Linked DNA regions of Homo sapiens: region 1 is linked to region 2. The links come from fine-mapping of genetic effects on gene expression. A gene starts in region 2. The other region holds a variant in brackets. All regions are shown on one strand. Distances are from middle to middle.

The links.
Region 1: its variant is fine-mapped to the expression of PPP2R5A in lung (TOPMed, PIP above 0.99).

Annotation. Positions count from the first base shown.
Region 1 is chr1:212,221,456-212,230,192 of GRCh38, forward strand. LINC02608 (long intergenic non-protein coding RNA 2608) reads right to left here. Exons shown (of 4, transcript NR_125984.1): 4 at 3,823-4,058. Among named protein-coding and RNA genes, the nearest start is that of LINC02608, 59 kb to the right of the region's middle. The variant TGGGAGAAGGG/T (reference allele first, on the strand shown) is at 3,629.
Region 2 is chr1:212,281,626-212,290,362 of GRCh38, forward strand. It overlaps PPP2R5A (protein phosphatase 2 regulatory subunit B'alpha), which reads left to right and starts at 3,785. Exons shown (of 13, transcript NM_006243.4): 1 at 3,785-4,666. The coding sequence starts at 4,486. LINC02608 (long intergenic non-protein coding RNA 2608) reads right to left here and starts at 3,396. Exons shown (of 4, transcript NR_125984.1): 1 at 3,354-3,396. RefSeq lists enhancers at 1-31, 3,298-3,377 and a silencer at 3,548-4,517.

The sequences.
Region 1 (8,737 bases), 60 kb before region 2:
CTTTATGATATTCTGCTTTGACCAAACACCTGCCTAATAATTCAGCATTTCCCATCTAAGATTCAGTATTTTATTTCCTGCCCCAAAACTCAGACACTCCCAGTCTGACTTCTAATCCCTGCTGTTGAAACCCCTGAGATGCTGTTACCTGCTTCGCTCCTCCCCTTCTTTGAAGGGGTTCTCAGGACCTTGAATTTGGTTTGGGCCACCATTGGTTAACAGTGATCGTGTCGTTAAGAAAGACAATGGAGAAGGTGGCTGGGGCACAATGCCAGGACTTTTTATGGCCTTCTCAGGCTGTCCTGGGCCCATGTGTGTCCATCTCTCCAGTAACTAGTCTCTGACCCTGTCCTCATGTCCTTAACACCTGGCCACTCCTTGACTGCACAGCTGCACAGACTTAGATTCCCATCTCACCAACATTCAAGCCCAGGATCTGAAGGATTCCGGTAGGGGAGGCTGCAGGAGCCCTTAGGAATGTCAGTTTGACATTGAAACAAGTTTTTTCCCTCAACTAACAAATTCTTGGCCCTCTGCTAAGGCCTTTGAGGGGGAGTTTGTGGCAGGATGGCCATGGGAGGATAATGCAGAGTCATGGAGATGGAAGGAGGGTCATGGATAAAGACACCAGCTGCTTTCCTTTGGCTGACATCAACCCTGAGGCCATTCTGAAACTGCTTTACTTGGCAGCCTGGAGACACTGCCTAGAATATCACCATCCCAGGCCAGGCATGGTGGCTCATGCCTGTAATCCCAGCACTTTGGGAGGCCGAGGCGGGCAGATCACAAGGTCAGGAGTTTGAGACCAGCCTGACCAACATGGTGAAACCCTATCTCTACTAAAAATACAAAAAAATTAGCCGGGTGTGGTAGCATGCACCTGTGATCCCAGCTACTCAGGAGGCTGAGGCAGGAGAATCGCTTGAACCTGGGAAGTGGAGGTTGCAGTGAGCCAAGATCACACCACTGCACTCCAGCCTGGGCGAAAGAGCGAGATTCTGTCTCAAAAAAAAAAAAAAAGAAAAAAGAAAAAAAAAAGAATACCATCATCCTAGCTGAAGGCCTCCAGGCAACTGGACTCTTCAGATAGCTGGTGATAACAAATGGCAGGTGGAAGCCAAGGGAGAACTTTTCACATATCCTTCAACTTCCCCAATCTCATTTTAGAATTTCTGAAGTAGTGACAATTGGGGGGAAAAAAGTTTCTCCAGGGTCACTTTGGAAGAAGCAATGTATATTAATTTTCTCCTTTATAGCCACTGAATGATGGCAGGTTAGAGAGTGGCAGGTCCTGTTGATGAAGTATTAATATTACTGCAACAGGCTGGTCAACATGGTGAATCCCTGTCTCTGCTAAGAATACAAAAATTAGCCGGGAGTGGTGGCGGGCACCTGTAATCCCAGCTACTTAGGAGGCTGAGGCAGGAGAATCGCTTGAACATGGGTGGCAGAGGTTGCAGTGAGACAAGATCACGCCATTGCACTCCAGCCTGAGTGACAGAGTGAGACTCCGTCTCAAAAATAAATAAATAAATAAATAAAATAAATAAATAAAAATATTACTGCAACAGCAGAGAGCCAGACCCCACAAGGGTGATGGCAAGAAAATTGGTGAGGAATTCGATGCGTAAATCTTGGGTTGCCTCTGAATCCTTTGGCCCTGGGGAGGGAGAGCAGAGCCCACCCTGAGAAGAGGCCAAGCAAGAGGACAGACAATGGGGAAGGAGGCCAGGTCACAGTGCCAGGACGTTTTATCCTATTAGGCCACTGCATTCCTGCAACTTCTGAATATACAACCTAAATCTTTTTTTTTTTTTTCTTGAGACGGAGTCTCACACTGTCACCTGGGCTGGAGTGCAGTGTGTGTGTGTGTGTGTGTGTGTGTGTGTGTGTGTATAGTGTATTTTAGGATGTAGGCTGGGCACAGTGGCTCTTACCTATATTCCTAACACTTTGGGAGGCCAAGGCAAGAGGATCACTTAAGCCCAGGAGTTGAAGACCCGCTTGGGTAACATAGCGACACCTGCCTCTACAAAAAAATTCTTAAAAATTAGCTGGGTGCAGTGCAATGCACCTGTAGTCTCAGATACTGGGAGGCTAAGGTGGGAGGATCGTGTGAGCCCAGGAGCTTGAGGCTGTAGTGAACTGTGATCATGCCACTGCACTCCAGCCTGGGTGACAGAACAAAACCCTGTCTCTAAAAAATTTTTTAAATTATCGAATTTTTAAAATTTTGTCCTATTAAACTATAATATGCCTTAGGGAAGTCACATTTTTTAATTCTCTCCCACCCTTCCATTAGCCCTTGGCTGTTGTTTAGGAGATAATTTTGATTAATTAATTTGTTGACTGACCCTTTAAGATATCAACATCAATTGTTTTAAAATCTTAGTTTATAGAAAAAATGTTAGCCTAAAGACTGACTCCATTTGTCCCTCATACAGAAGCCAAGAGTTTCTGTTAAGATTTAGGTTGTATAGGCCGGGTGCCTATATATCCATATATACATATGTGTGTGTGTGTGTGTGTGTGTGTGTGTGTGTGTGTGTGTATCTATATATATATCTCCAGGAAGAGAGAAATGTAATAATTTATAGGCAATATAGAATACATTGTTCTGTGGTAGCAGAACTCTTTCCTATGGAGTGTTGAGGATGACTTGGAAAAAGCAGAATTTGGCCTTGCTGGTTGGGGGACTTAGATTATGAAGCACCTACTGGGTGCCAGGCACTGGGCTAAGAACTGGGAACACAAAGATGAGCACTTCATGGGCTCTGTCCCCAAGAGAGTGCTCACAGACTAGTGTGGGTGGCAGATCTGTGAACAGAGAACAGAGCAGAGCCCTGAAAAGAGGAGTGATACCTGTGTGGCTGGGGAGGTGAGCAGGGTGTGTGTGGAGAGAGAGAGACACGCAGAGAGAGAGAGAGACAGAGAGAGAGAAAGAAAGAAACTTCTGGAGGGGCTTCACTGAGGAGGTGGCATTTGGGTTATGTTTTCTCTGTGGATTTGGAGGAAGAGCATTTTAGACAAGCGGACAGTGAGTGCAAAGGCACAGGCAGACGCCACACAAGAAAGACAGGCATGCATTCAGAGGAGTCCGTGTGATTGGGAGAAAGGCTGCACACACCGTGTGGTAGCAGACAGTCTGGGAAAACCGGGCAGGAGAAAGGTCATTAGGGCCCGGGTGCCAAATAAAGTGTGCATTTCTTTTTATTTTTCTTTCTTTCTTTTTTTTTTTTTTTTTTTTGAGACAGAGTCTCTCTCTGTCACCCAGGCTGGAGTGCAATGGCACGATCTCAGCTCACTGCAACCTCCGCCACCCAGGTCCAAGCAATTCTCCTGCCTCAGCCTCCCAAGTAGCTGGGATTACAAGTGTGTGCCACCATGCCTGGCTAATTTTTGTACTTTTAGTAGGCACAGGGTTTCACCATGTTGGCCAGGCTGGTCTTCAACTCCTGACTTCAGGTGATCCACCCGCCTTGGCCTCCCAAAGTGCTAGGATTACAGGCATGAACCTCCACATCCGGCCAAAGTGTGCATTTCTATCTTTGGGGAGATCGAGAGCCGGCCACTATTTTTGAGCAGGAGAGGAGTGGGTTCATGTTTACCTTTCAGAAAGATCCCCCAC[TGGGAGAAGGG/T]GGTCTTATTGCTCCAAGAAGCCAGAGAAAGGGAGACCAGTTGTGGGGTGGGTGGGTTGGTTGGGGGTGGAGGCTTTTAGGCAAGGACATGGCAGCAACTGCCAGGATGCCCACAGCTGGGTGGCATGCAAGATGGACTGAAGGCAGGAGTACTATTTGAGGCAAAGGAGACCTTTAGAGAAAATGCCCTGTCAAAGCCATTTATTTTAACAAATACTCTTCCATTGCTCTGTTTTTATTCCCTTCAGATGCATCTTTCCTTCTGGGATTGTGAAAATGGATGTCATTTCTGTAGCTTTCTGAAGTTTCGGTGAAGTTTCCTTTTCCTCTCAGTGGATTCTGTGTAGCAGGAAGCATGAGTTGATTTCAGCTTTTTGTCTTCTGAGACCTACTTCAGAGTGTGTTGCTGCTGGTCCGAGGCTGAAAGGAAGGTCTGTGATGTCATAGGCTGTGATTTTTCTAGAAATGTGTACTGAGATCAGCTGGCACAATTGTGTTTTAAAAACAAAAACATCTCAGGGGCAGTCCCCACATTCTGCATAACGGGACCCTTCACCCCACTGCCTAGATGGTTAATCCCGACAACTCAGAACACCCCACTAACCAAGGTGTTAATGACGTAACTCTCTCCTCACAGGAAAAGCTGCTCTGTAAGAAAAGGGCACTGAAGGAAGTGGCTTTTGTTCTAATGCCGAATTCCGGGGAGGCTGGTGCTTGAAATGTTTACCTCCTCCTGACTTTTTACATGATTTCTCCAGTTCTTGCATTTTATACACCAAAAGCAAAATACAGCTTGACCCTGGACTATTACATGGTGGCTCCGCCAGGCTGGCTGTGGAACTCAGGCTCTGCCATGCAATGGTTGGTTAGTCAGGAGACTGGAGCAGAGAGCAAATAAGGTCGAGGTCATGGTTGAAATTCCTATAGAGGCCAATTGGCTGGGCACATCCTGCCCTCCACTCTCTCTGGCCCTGTTGTACAGGGGACTGAGTAAGAGGGTATAGCTGGCTCAATGCAGCCCAGCACCGCTCTCTTAAATCGCATTGCACATCCTGAATGGCCAGTAAATAATACAGACTTCAGGCACAATGAGACCTTGCTTAAGCAACCCTCTAGAAGAAAGCACCATTATACCTTTCAGCTGTGGTTTTTTTCAGCCTTCATTAGTGATGTGGAACAGCATTGACTGCAGTAACTTTTCTACTAAGCAGAAACATTTGTCTGCTGCTCCAGTCAAAAATACCTGCTTTACAGCTTTAATTCGTCCCACAGAACTGCAGGTCCATAAGGTGAGGCCGTTTCCCTTCCCCACTTCCTCTCTCCATGCCCTTTCCTCACTCACTGATGGCCTCTTCTCCTCTGGTAGCCCCCGAAGCCTTTTTTTCTCCCTATCAGAGCAAGAAAGGCTCTTAGGATGGTTGTTTGCACGCCCAAGTTGACAGACTGCCCTTCATGGCAATGATTCCTGTTACTATTACTTCACCCAGACATTGAATGTCAGGGTTTTTTCTAGAAGGCTGTCAGTAGAAGTTGGCAGTTAAGAGTGGGTAGTTTAGAACCAGATCAAAGCCAGGCTGGGATCTGGCCCTGACAGTTACTATCTGCGTGCCTTGGGATAAGAACTTAACCTTGCCAAGCCTCGGTTTTCCTCTCTGTAAAGAAAAGCTCATACTGAAATTATTGCATGCCAGCTCTCAGCATTGCCTGTCACATGACAAATGTTAGTTATGATTATTTGTTAGCTAATTGACACACAGAAGGCTTTATTCTACTAAAGGCCTACAGCTAGCAAGTGGAGATAATTTTTTATTCAAATTTTTTATTATAAAAAATTTCAAATGCATAGAAAAGGTGAAATAATAGTACAGTTGACACTGAAATCCCTCTTCTAGATTCTACAGTTGTATACATTTTACCAAATATATGTTTTTTCCTAAACTATTTCAATGTAAGATACAGACATCATCCCTAAATACTTCAGCACACATCTCTTTAAAATAAGGACATCCTCTGACATACTCACAGTAACCTTTTTTACACTTAAGAAAATTAATGATAATTACCTAATATCCCCTGGTTCCCAATTCCCAAATCATATAACATTTTCCAAAATGTTTCCCAATATGTCTTCTAACAGATGTTTGTGTGTGTGTGTGTTTTAAAAAATTTCAGTAGCTTTTGGGGTACAAATGTTTTTGGTTACGTGGATGAACCGCAGAGTGGTGACGTCTGACATTTTCATGCACCCATCACCCAAGTAGTGTACATTGTACCCAATATGTAGTTTTTTATCCCATACCCCTCTCTCATCCTCCCTCTTCTGATTCTCCAAAGTCAATGGACTTTGGATGTTTTTTTTTCAAACAAGATCCAATCAAAACTCTTACATTGCATTTGGTTGTCATGTCTCTATTTTCTTTTATTCTAGAGCGGTAGGTGTGGGGAAATTTTGAGAACAATATTGTTGCTGAAATCAACTATTGGCTGCCAGGTGGAAATGGCTGCTGCCTCCACTGAGGCACACTGGGCCCCGCCACATTTATTAGCACAAGCCCTGTGATATGGTTGCATAGCTTGCTTTGCTGAACTTGTTGGTTACTAGCTACTGCTTAATGACTGGACATTAGAGACTCTTCTGTTGTTTTTATATTCCCACCACCTCCACAGCACCTAACACACAGGTGGTCAGTAAAAGTGGATGGAAGGAAAGGAGGCAGGGAGGAAGAAGGAAGAAAAAGGAGAGTGGGAAAGAGGCAGGCACGGGCAGGCCCCCCTGCCTCCATGCCAGGTGGGTACCTGGAGAGTGACACTGTGCCCTCCTGGGAAGCACCCACACTCCTTTGATTGGGGGAAAACGATTCCATGTGGCATGTGCCTTTTGTCCAAATATGCCTTCTTCCTTCGCATTCTCCTTTCCCTCTTTCCCATCCTCCTTACCTGAGCACTAGTTGGGATCCCTCAGACCTTCTGCTATCTTTAACTTAGTCTTTCCCTCTCTTCCCATATACAAGATTAACATTTGACATTATTTTAAAAATAATCTGTAATAGATTATCTTTTCCTACAATCACACTCATTTTCCCAATTCCCTGGGAGATAATTCCCACAAAATTTGTGGTCAGTAATTAAATTCCTGACCACAATGAATCATGAGGAATATATACTGTGTTCAGAGGGATGGCGTGGTATCCGTAAGGGAGCATCTGCTGAAGGGAGAGAGAGGACACATGGGGGTTAGCCCACAAAGCCAAGGGGAGCTGTCCTCCAAACACAACCAACAGAGTTTAGCTCAGGCTTCAGGATCAAACTATTGCTTCTATTCTGTGTGGAGAGAACAATGACTGAATTGGCTGGAATAGAACAAAGTTGTTAAAGTGAACTTTCTCCACACCTCATCTCTAATCCCTAAAATTTTGACTTAAACAAAATTTTGAGTTAAGCAAATTTGAATTAAAAATTTTGAGCAGATACAGGGAATGAATGCAAGAAGCTCTTGATTATCTTCATGGTGGACTGGCTCATTTTCATTCCGGGCTGACCTCGTTGATATGTTCTCTACCACTTCTCCTTGCTGAGAAGTAGTTGGCGTCTATTCAAAGTACACAGGCCATTTAATTATTAATCGGAGCAAAACATTATTAGGGAAGTTAAACTGTTGAGTAGGTGTGTGTGTGTAAACATGTGGATACTTTCTTGATTATCTAGCTGTTTTGTTTTGCCTTTTGCCTTTCTGGGTTCCTGCCCCTCTCCATTTGTGGTGATACCTGTAAGGTGATTATGCCACTGAATTCCTAAGAGCTTTTTGGTCCCTCTCTCATTCTCCTTGGATGTGTGTGGAAATGTTTGTCAGCAGGGGCGGACCGGGGAGGGTTCATGTACACAAGAAGTGACTGACCTTGGCCGCTGAGTGGAGTGTGTATTTGTGACGAGGAAAGGGTTCAGTGTTTGTGTTTGGTGATGGTTTTATGTCCTGCTGTCATTAGAGAGGACTTTATAGGGGTTTCTGATGACCTAGGGCTCCAGGAATCATCATGATTATTTAGACAATGATTTTAATGGGCCCATATAAACTTATTCTGTTTTTATACTAGTAACAGAGAAGAAGATGTTGGAAGATTAAATATAGAGAAGGATGGGCTTTAGCGTCACTGTTCAGGGACATTGGGAATTATTCTACAGAATTCGATCCAGCCTATTCTCATTATTTCCTTCTTCTTATGACTTTCATTCTTTCCTTACCTTCCTCCTTTTCCCTTTCTTCTTCTTCTTTTTTTTTTTTTTGAAACGGAGTCTCTCTCTGCCGCCCAGGCTGGAGTGCAGTGGTGCAATCTCAGCTCACTGCAAGCTCTGCCTCCCAGGTTCACGGCATTCTCCTGCCTCAGCCTCCCAACTGGCTGGGACTACAGGCGCCCGCCACCATGTCCAGCTATTTTTTTGTATTTTTAGTAGAGACAGGGTTTCACTGCCTTAGCCAGGATGGTCTCGATCTCCTGACCTTGTGATCCACCTATCTCGGCCTCCCAAAGTGCTGGGATTACAGGCGTGAGCCACTGCGCCCGCCCTCTTCTTTTTTTCTTCCTTGCTTTCTTTCTTTTCCCTCCTCCCTTCCTCTCCCCACCTTTATTTATTTCTTTCAACATGTACTGCCTGCTTACTATATATTAGTCACAGTCTAAATGCTGGAGATGCAGAGATGAATAACACATGGCCCCAGCCCTCCTGGAACTCAGTTTAGCGTGGGAGGCAGATGGAGGCACAGATCATTCCAGTACAGTGGTTAACGATAGAGATAAGTACAGGGTGAGCTCAATGTAGGGGTCCCTAATCCAGCTTGGCTTGGGAGAGAAGGCAGGAAGCTTCCTGGAAGAGATGATGGCAGATTGATTGGGAGTGGCTGAAAAAGGAGCAGGGCTCAAGGCCTTTACCTGGCAGGCCAGGTCATTCACATGGTTTATGAGCACTGGATAAAGGGAATGGGATGAAGGGCTTTGGGGGTATGGGTCTTCCATGAGATATGACACCAGATTTTGATGTCACTGCATATGGTTAGGACCACAGGGGCAGGGCAGAAATGATGTCTACTACTGTGGGACAGTACT
Region 2 (8,737 bases):
TCTTTAAAACCATTACACAACCATTATTTTGATGTTGTGGATATTACTTTTTCTCGCATCATTTTTCTCAACAAAAGGATAAGGTCAGTAAGTGTATATACGTTTATAAACTAAGGAAGTTAAGTAATGTAAGCACAAACCATCCAAGGAATTTGTTAGTGATGCAATCCTGGCCTCTAAATTGCTCTTGACCAAGGAGCTTCACATATGGGAAGGATCAGAAATTCTATGGCATGGAATCAAAGACACTCTTCCTGCTTCAGGGGCACATATAGATTAGTACTGTCATTGCAGTTTCCTATTAGATGATTCTTAGTGACCAAATCTCTGTCTAGGACCCAGATACCTTATTTACTCAAAATAGTGGACGGAAAATAAACGTTTGATATACATGTATGCATAATATTTTCATCTACATAATTTTTATTTCCCTGAGTGTTTTTTCTTGGGTCATATTTAAAACTCATGCCAGCCCTGTGAAGAAGGTTGTCATTTTTTTTTTCTGATGTACACATGTGGAAAAAGTGACTGGACAGAATCATTCTATTGATAAGTAGCACAGAGTCAGGCATTTTGATTCTTGGGCTTTTGTTCTTCCCCCTGGAAAATGCTTAGTGACTTGATCTGGAATGCCATCCTCTCTTTTCAGGTTTTGACTTGATCTTTAAAATTATGCTCAAAATTCTTCCCCAAGAGGCTGTTTCACCAAAGCCCAGATGGTTTTTGCTGGTTCCAAGACTCCCAAAAACTTGTTTCCAGTATTTTCTATTATATCCAGTATCTATTATTTATCACATTCCAGTATGAACATGGAATATGATTTATTGTATTGACTTACAGAATTTGCTTTATTGTATTTATTTTTTTCTTTTCTTTTTTTTTTTTTCTTTTTTGAAACGGAGTCTCACTCTGTCACCCAGGCTGGAGTGCAGTGGCGCAATCTTGGCTCACTGCAACCTCCGCCTCCCGGGTTCAAGCGATTCTTCTGCCTCAGCCTCCTGAGTAGCTGGGACTACAGGCTCGTACCACCACACCTGGCTAATTTTTTATTTTTAGTAGAGACAGGGTTTCACCATGTTGGCCAGGCTGGTCTCAAACTCCTGACCTCGTGATCACCCACCTCGGCCTCCCAAAGTGCTGGGATTACAGACGTGAGCCACTGCGCCCGGCCTGTACTGATTTTCTTTCTGCTATTTGTCTCCCTTTCTTATTTTATGTAAATTATTATAAATAGTACTACTCCTGACTTACAGACATTTACATTCTGTTTTTAATAACTTCTAGATGACTAGAGAATAGTAGTTCCAAACTTTTGTGTACATAAGAATAACCTAGGGAAGTTATTAAAAATAGACTTCTCAGTGCTCTTCCCATAGGTTCTAGTTCTGTTGGGGGGAGGCGGGGGAGGTCCAGGAATCTGCATTTTCAATAAGCACCCCAGAGGATGCTGATGCAGGTGATCCAGTAACCACGCTTTCAGAAATTCTGCTGTTGAGAACTAAAAATGTGATTGTTATCCTCTGCTCAGTAGGGGAAACAGAGGTGTAAAATAAAATAACTGAGTTCTTGCTCTCTTGGTGTTGACAAACTTTCAGCTGTGAGTGGTGTGGACACTAAATGCAATAGGAATACAAAGAAGGGAGGCATCACTTCTGGCTGGATTGTCAAGCTTCATAAAAGATAGGGGGTTTGAAGAAAAGAAATTTCAAAAAGATGAAAAAAAAATGGGCCGGGCGCGGTGGCTCACGCCTGTAATCCCAGCGCTTTGGGAGGCGGAGGTGGCCGAATCACGAGGTCAGGAGTTCGAGACAAGCCTGGGCAACATGGTGAAACCCCGTCGCTACTAAAAATACAAAAAATTAGCCGGGCGTGGTGGCAGGTGCCTGTAATCCCAGCTACTCGGGAGGCTGAGGCAGGAGAATCGCTTGAACCCGGGAGGCGGAGCATGCAGTGAGCCGAGATTGTGCCACCATTGCACTCCAGCCTGGGTGACAGAGCAAGACTCCGTCTCAAAAAAGAAAAAAAAAAGTGGATTATTTCAAGATGTTGGAACAGCAAAGACTAAGTGTTGAGGATGCATAACTTCTTTTAGGGGATCAGTATGTGGAATGATGTGCCTGAACTAAAAAGAGTTTTTGTGGGCACATGTAGGAATTTACACTTGGAAAGACAGGAGTCAGATCGCAGAGAGTCTTGAATTTGGACTCTATTCTGCAGGTATTGGGTGGTTCCTCAAACACGCAGGTAAGATAAAAGTGATCTTAAAAGATTGATGTGGCAGTGAGTTTGAAAGCCGTGAACTACGTTTGGCGGTCTTTGTACACATTGGGAGAAACGCCAATTGTGAAAGTAGATTTAACATGATCTGGAGCTTGACTATGTGAGAAAGCGAAAAGTGTCAGAAACGCTGCTGAGGTTTGAACCTCCTTGACTGGGAGGATTATGTACAATTTCACCGCCCAGCAAATCTGAAGGAGGAAATGTTTTGAGGATAGTATGTTTGGTTCTAGGTCTAGAATTCAACTTCCTGCCAAATTTGGAATCTTCTGTACATATGCATCAGGTGGCTTCGTTTAAATATACGACAATTACTTTTATTATGTTGAAAGGAAAAGGTCTGGAGCTCGAGGGAGGGGATTACAGATTTGGGTCCATTGGCGCAAAGGGAGGCTGACTGTTCAGATTAATAATTATTAACGGCCACCGTATGGAAAGCACTGCACGAAAAACTAAGATGACCAGTCCTCGTCCTTAAGAAATTCAAAATCTAGACGGAATCTCCAAGAAAGAGATTCCGGTAAGAGTACATGGCAAGCCTCCATATCCACACACCACTGACCAATGAATTTGTACTCTTCTCGTTGGAGTAGTTGAGGGCCTTTGGCTCAAGGAGGGGTGAAAATTAGCAGGATACTAAATTGGGAATGAGAAATCTCTTTTTAGAGGGCGTGGACTTGCAGAACTCTTTGAAGCAGCAGATGCTAGACTGCCCAAACCCCACGCGAGAGTAGCTCTCTGGAGTTGCGGAGTCCGAACCTCCCAAGAGCTACAAATTTATTCCGCAACTACCAATTTTGCGGTTTGGGGCCAGTAAGGCGCCAAGACCCGCCCAGGTGTCCAGACCTCGCAACGATTGGACGAGCTCACCTTCTCGCCTTCCCCGGGCCCCTCGCCCGTCAATCACACTGCTTGCTCGCCACCTGACCTCTGCTGCGCCCCCTTTCAGTGGTGTAACACCTGGCGCTCTTTCGCGCCCCAGCCCTCCGGCGCCCCACCAATCGCTTCAGTTCTTCATTGGCCAGCAGAGAGGTGAGGGAAGGGAAGGGGCGCTCTATTTTGCTCTCTGAACGCACCCTCTCAAGTTTCCCAGTCTTCTCGTAGACGGTCAGGAGAGCAATGACAGCCTGGAGCAGTCGCGCGTGAGCGCAAAAATGCCCGCTGGTGGAGGAGCGCTTCCCCTCCCTCCCAAGCGATTTGCCGCATTTGTTCTGACGCAGGGGCACCCCGCTCGCCGTCTTCACTTACGATTGGCTGTGGCCGAAGCCCGTCACACAGCCCGCCCCACTCCTCTGCCTCAAGAGGCCGCACCTCACGCCGTCGCTGCCGCTTAGCCGTGTGATTGGCTAAGAGGGCTGGCATGCTTTCCCGCCCCCTCCCCCGCCGCCGCACCAAGAGGCGGGCGGGACCCCGCGGAAGTTGTCAGTCAAACTCCTCCTTCCCACCCCTTGCGAGGCCCCTCCCCGGGCCGCGCGCCCTGGCGCGCGCACACGCGCACACACTCCCCAGTCGCCTGTACCAACCACCTTCTCAAGTTGTAGCGGTCGCTCGCCTGGGGTTCTCCGTGGGCGGCCGACGGGCGCGTGGGGGAGGGGGTTCGGGCCGCCCAGCGCGGCAAGGAGCGAGTGTGTGCACGCAGAGGGCCGGGGCTACGGGGCAGCGCCCCGGGCGATGAGGGGCCGGCGTTGACCGGGAAGAGCGGGCACCGCGGCAGTGGCTCCGAGGGGACCCGCGATGGCAGCGCCCTGAGAGGAGGCTCCAGGCAGGGCGGGCTGCGCTGGCAGCGGCCGCTGAGGTGCTGGCCGGCCGGCTGGCTGGCGACGGGGGCAGAAGCGACGAGAGGCGCGCTCGGCACCCGCACCCCCGTGCCCCCGCCTCAGTTGTCTAAACTTCGGGCTCTCTTCCACCCGCTCTGCGCGCCCAGAGTCAACAACTTCTTCACCCCCCTCCGCCCCCGCCCTTCCCTCCGTCAGCCCCGGGAGCTCGCCGCGCGCCGGGGACCAGGAACCTCCAGCGCTGAGATGTGGCCGTGAGGCGTTGGCGGGCGGCGAGGAGAAGCTCGGCGGCGTCCCGGGGCCGGAGGGCCGTGGGGCCGGGGCGCAGGGGCGCGAGCACCCCGCGCCTCTCCCCCGCCTCCTCCTGCCGTCTCCGCCGCTGCCCGTGCCTTGCAAGCAGCAGCCGGAGCTGCCAAGCGTCAGGGCCGCGGAGATGTCGTCGTCGTCGCCGCCGGCGGGGGCTGCCAGCGCCGCCATCTCGGCCTCGGAGAAAGTGGACGGCTTCACCCGGAAATCGGTCCGCAAGGCGCAGAGGCAGAAGCGCTCCCAGGGCTCGTCGCAGTTTCGCAGCCAGGGCAGCCAGGCAGAGCTGCACCCGCTGCCCCAGCTCAAAGGTAACCTCCGAGGGCGCAGCCCCAGCAGCGAGCGCAGGGGCTGGCAACGCTTGCCTCTGCGCCAGCAGAGCCATTTCCTGCTGGGTTTCTCCTGCTCAGTTGGGACTGGTAGTGTGTGAGCCGAGTTCCCCACAATGCCTTGGCGTCACCTCACGCCCTCCTCCTTATTCAAACAGGTTTTCTGTGAAGTCTTGGCTGTTTCCTTCTAATTCCCACCTGAACTCTTTCCATCCTAGGGGAGGCCAACACCCTTCCCCACCTGCGCGCTTGCTTAACCTGCACTTCCTATCTTGCGTCCCGTGAAGTAGAGTCCTTCACTCCTCTTCCAGGTTTGCCCTTTCCCGGTCTTGCTTTAACAACCGCACGAACCTTCCCCGACCTTCACTTTCCCGAGTGTCAGCTCCTCTGTTCGGCCACTTTTAGCTAGTCCTTTACTTTTACAGTTATAAAGCCGTCTGCACCCACCTTCTTCTCAACTTCACTTCCCATTGATTGCCCCTAAGAGTCATCAGACCAGGAATCCGAATGCAAACAACGGTTAAGAGTTAGCTGGCCTTTGGATGTATTTATAAAGAAAAAGCCTAAAATTTGACCAGTGTAGTATCTTATTCACAGGATCGTTAGCTTTAAATGGTATCCTTTAGCTCAAGGAATAGATTTAAAATATTCTGTTGTCTGAGCCGATACACATGGTCTATTTGGAAATACGAAGGAGTAGGTAGTGTTGCTTTGCAGTCGAATGGGAACTTAGTTTGCCAGGCAGTGATTCCAGGGACTTTGTAGGTTTGTACAGGAATTCAAATTGGTATCCGTGCCTAATGCCTTGCAGGAGAACTTGGCACTCTTTTTGGCTCACTTTTCCCACTAGGTTTAGAGGATTTTCGATGTTATTTCCTGGTGTTCTAGTTTATTCTTTGTGTATTACTCATGCTTAATTTTATAATTTTAATGTCCTTGCTTTTTATGAGATAGAAATGTTGGAACAAGATGATAATGCTCCTACATATTTAGATAAAATTTGCAACCTGACGGAAATCCCTATCATCTGATGTTCAGATTTTTCAATTCATTTGAAAAAGCTGCAGCATCCCCTTCAAGGCCAGTCTGGTTCTCATTTGTCTTTGGGCCTGTGAATCCAGCCTTAGTTTGGCAAGGAGTCTAAAGAAAACCCCAGATCAAATCACAGTTGACCTACAACAGCTCCAGAACCCTATTGAGACCCTACCTTGCCCTGACTCTTGGAGTGCTTCTAAATCATGACATCTCACAGTTAGAATCAAACTGGCTTTTGAACAGAGATTTTGAGATATTAGTCTGTGCTATCGAATTTATCATTTGATTGCTCTTTAGCATATAAAAATTGTTAAAATTTACATAGCAAAATGGTAGACTATAATGATAGGCATTGCCAAGACTTTAATTCTTGAATGATGTCATAGCTATAAAAGAATATCGTCTTTGCTATTCATAGATTTTAAAATTTACACTTATTTAAAATATCATAGTTTTTTTATACTACTGATTTTTTTTCTCCCATTAAATTGTCAAACTGTAGTTTGAAGGTTTGGTGCTAGGGTTATTTCATAGTTATTTAATTTGCTTTTTAGTAAGATATTCTAGTTTCTTAGTATTGTACTTCTTAATAGTATACTTTAATAAAAGTAATTGAATATTAAACATTTGGTTGGTTTCAAGCCAGGAGATGCAGCTTTGATAGGTTTTGCTTTTATTTTATTTATTTTATTTTATTTTTTCACTTTCGTTGCTCAGGCTGGAGTGCAATGGCGCGATCTCAGCTCACTGCAACCTCCGCCTCCCGGGTTCAAACAATTCTTCTGCCTCAGCCTCCCAACTAGCTGGGATTACAGGCATGTGTCACCATGGCCGGCTAATTTCGTATTCTTAGTAGAGATGGGGTTTCACCATGTTGGTGAGGCTGGTCTCCAACTCCTGACCTCAGGTGATCAGGCCACCTCAGCCTCCCAAAGTGGTGGGATTACAGGCGTGAGCCACCGCACCTGGCCACATTTTGCTTTTAAAAGCTTGGAAAAATATGCATAGAGTCAGTAATCATCTAAGTTATATGATGTAGGGTTCAACAAGTTGAAGGTGCCATATAGTATTTGGTCACTAGTAAAGAAGAAAGTAAATTGGAACTTTACATTAATTGTAGATATTTGCATGAAAATACAGTATTCATCATAAGGAAAATTATGTATTCAGGATAAATTTATGCAAATTTAATTGAGGAAATAAGACCCTTACTTGGATTACAAACTAATAGGAACAACTTCTTTTACTCCAGATGCCAAAATGCTTGCAAGTGATTTAAAAAAAAAACACCAACATTCAATTGCTTCAATTGGAACTTTGGCAGTGTACTTGATACCACAGTGTTGTGTTTTTTCTGCCAGTGGTAGTTTTTTCCATTTGTGGCCTTCACAAAAACATGGAAAGCCCTTTAGTATGTGTATGAAAGAAAGAATTTTCTTCCTCCTCTGAAATACCATCTTACTGTGGAGTGATTCAGATATCCATGGACTCCAAGATCTTTTAAGTTTCATACCAGCCTGCTTATGTTACTTTGACCACATGCATCTGAACTGGAAAGGTGCCAACTAGTTTTCCTCAAACCATAGTAAGGATTAACAAAATAATCCAGCCTTTTCACCTGTAAGAAGTATTTGTGCAAAATAATTTAGTAAGTGGGTTGTGGGATTTTAATGGCAAAAATGTTCAGAATAAATTGTTTTATAATTGAAAGTATTTAATAAACAACAAGCCTTGTTAAAAGGCTTTTCAGTCTAACCTATTTTGTTTAAGATTCTGGAAGGCTTGGTTTGGTAAAGTAGTTGATGCCTTACATTTATATAACATTTTAGCATTTTAAAATTATTTTACCTTAAAAATTTTCTTAAATTATAAAACAGTATTGTTCATACCAAGTGAAACAATCCAAAGATATGTAACCCTTAATCCCTGTGTATCTCCTGCTTTTTCACACCTAGTAAGTAAGGGTAATACTGTTGTTTGATAATCCATGGCTCATTGTATTTTTACAAACATCCTATTCATTGGGTCATCCCTGAACTTTTTGCAAGGTCAGTATTCCCATTTTATTGATGAGAAAGTTGAGGCCTAAAAAGAATAGTTTCTGGCCTGTGATTACTTATCTGGATGATGTTGCAGCTGACACTGGGACCTAGGTCAAATGATTTCAGTATTTGTGCTGTTAACTGTTTTATGTAAATTTGAAGCAGTGTGATAGAGTTGGGTCTCTGGGGTTAGTCCTGGGTCAAAGGTAAATTTTTAATCTTTCTAAGTCGTTTTCCTTATCTGTAAAATGGGGATAATACAAATCTCCCCAGGCCTGTGGGGATTAAGGGGAATAATTTAAGTGCCTAAAAATAGGCAAAGAATGTTAGTTCCCATTCTCTTAAATATTTGAAAATCCAGATTAAAAATATTTTTAAATGAAGGATTATTAATAGGATTACTTACTTAAATGGTAAACTTTCCTAGTGTATTTAAAGTGATTTTATTTATAATCAGTTTTCAGATATGATTTATGTGATCTGAAGTGCAGCTGCAACATCTTTCAGCACGAGTGTAGAAATGGAAATAGGATTAAGTCAGACTCTTTAAAACATTAAAAGCTGTGATAAGATTTTTTTACCAAGCGAAGAAATCAACCTAACCAGTAGAATTATATAGATGTGCAGTCATCTTAGGAGACAGCCGGGAAATAAATAGCAAGATAGGCTGAAACTGGCTTTGAGATTGAAGTCCCCTTCAGAAGAGGTAAAACTTTCCCAAGTAGCACTCAAGATTCTTTGTTGGTCCATTCTTAGCAACTGTGTCCCACTAGAGGTATTGAGGCCAGTAATAGTGGTGTTGATTGCAGTGCTTCCTTACCTTTAGGGGGAAAAATGTGTGTGTTTTCTAAAGTAGGTGATCTAAGGTAATTGTGGAACAAGAACACTGACATTATCTTAAGTTCTATAGCTAAACCTTTTTGTGGAGAGAAAACCGTACTACTCACTCAACTTTTAAGGTTTATAGATCTTCTCA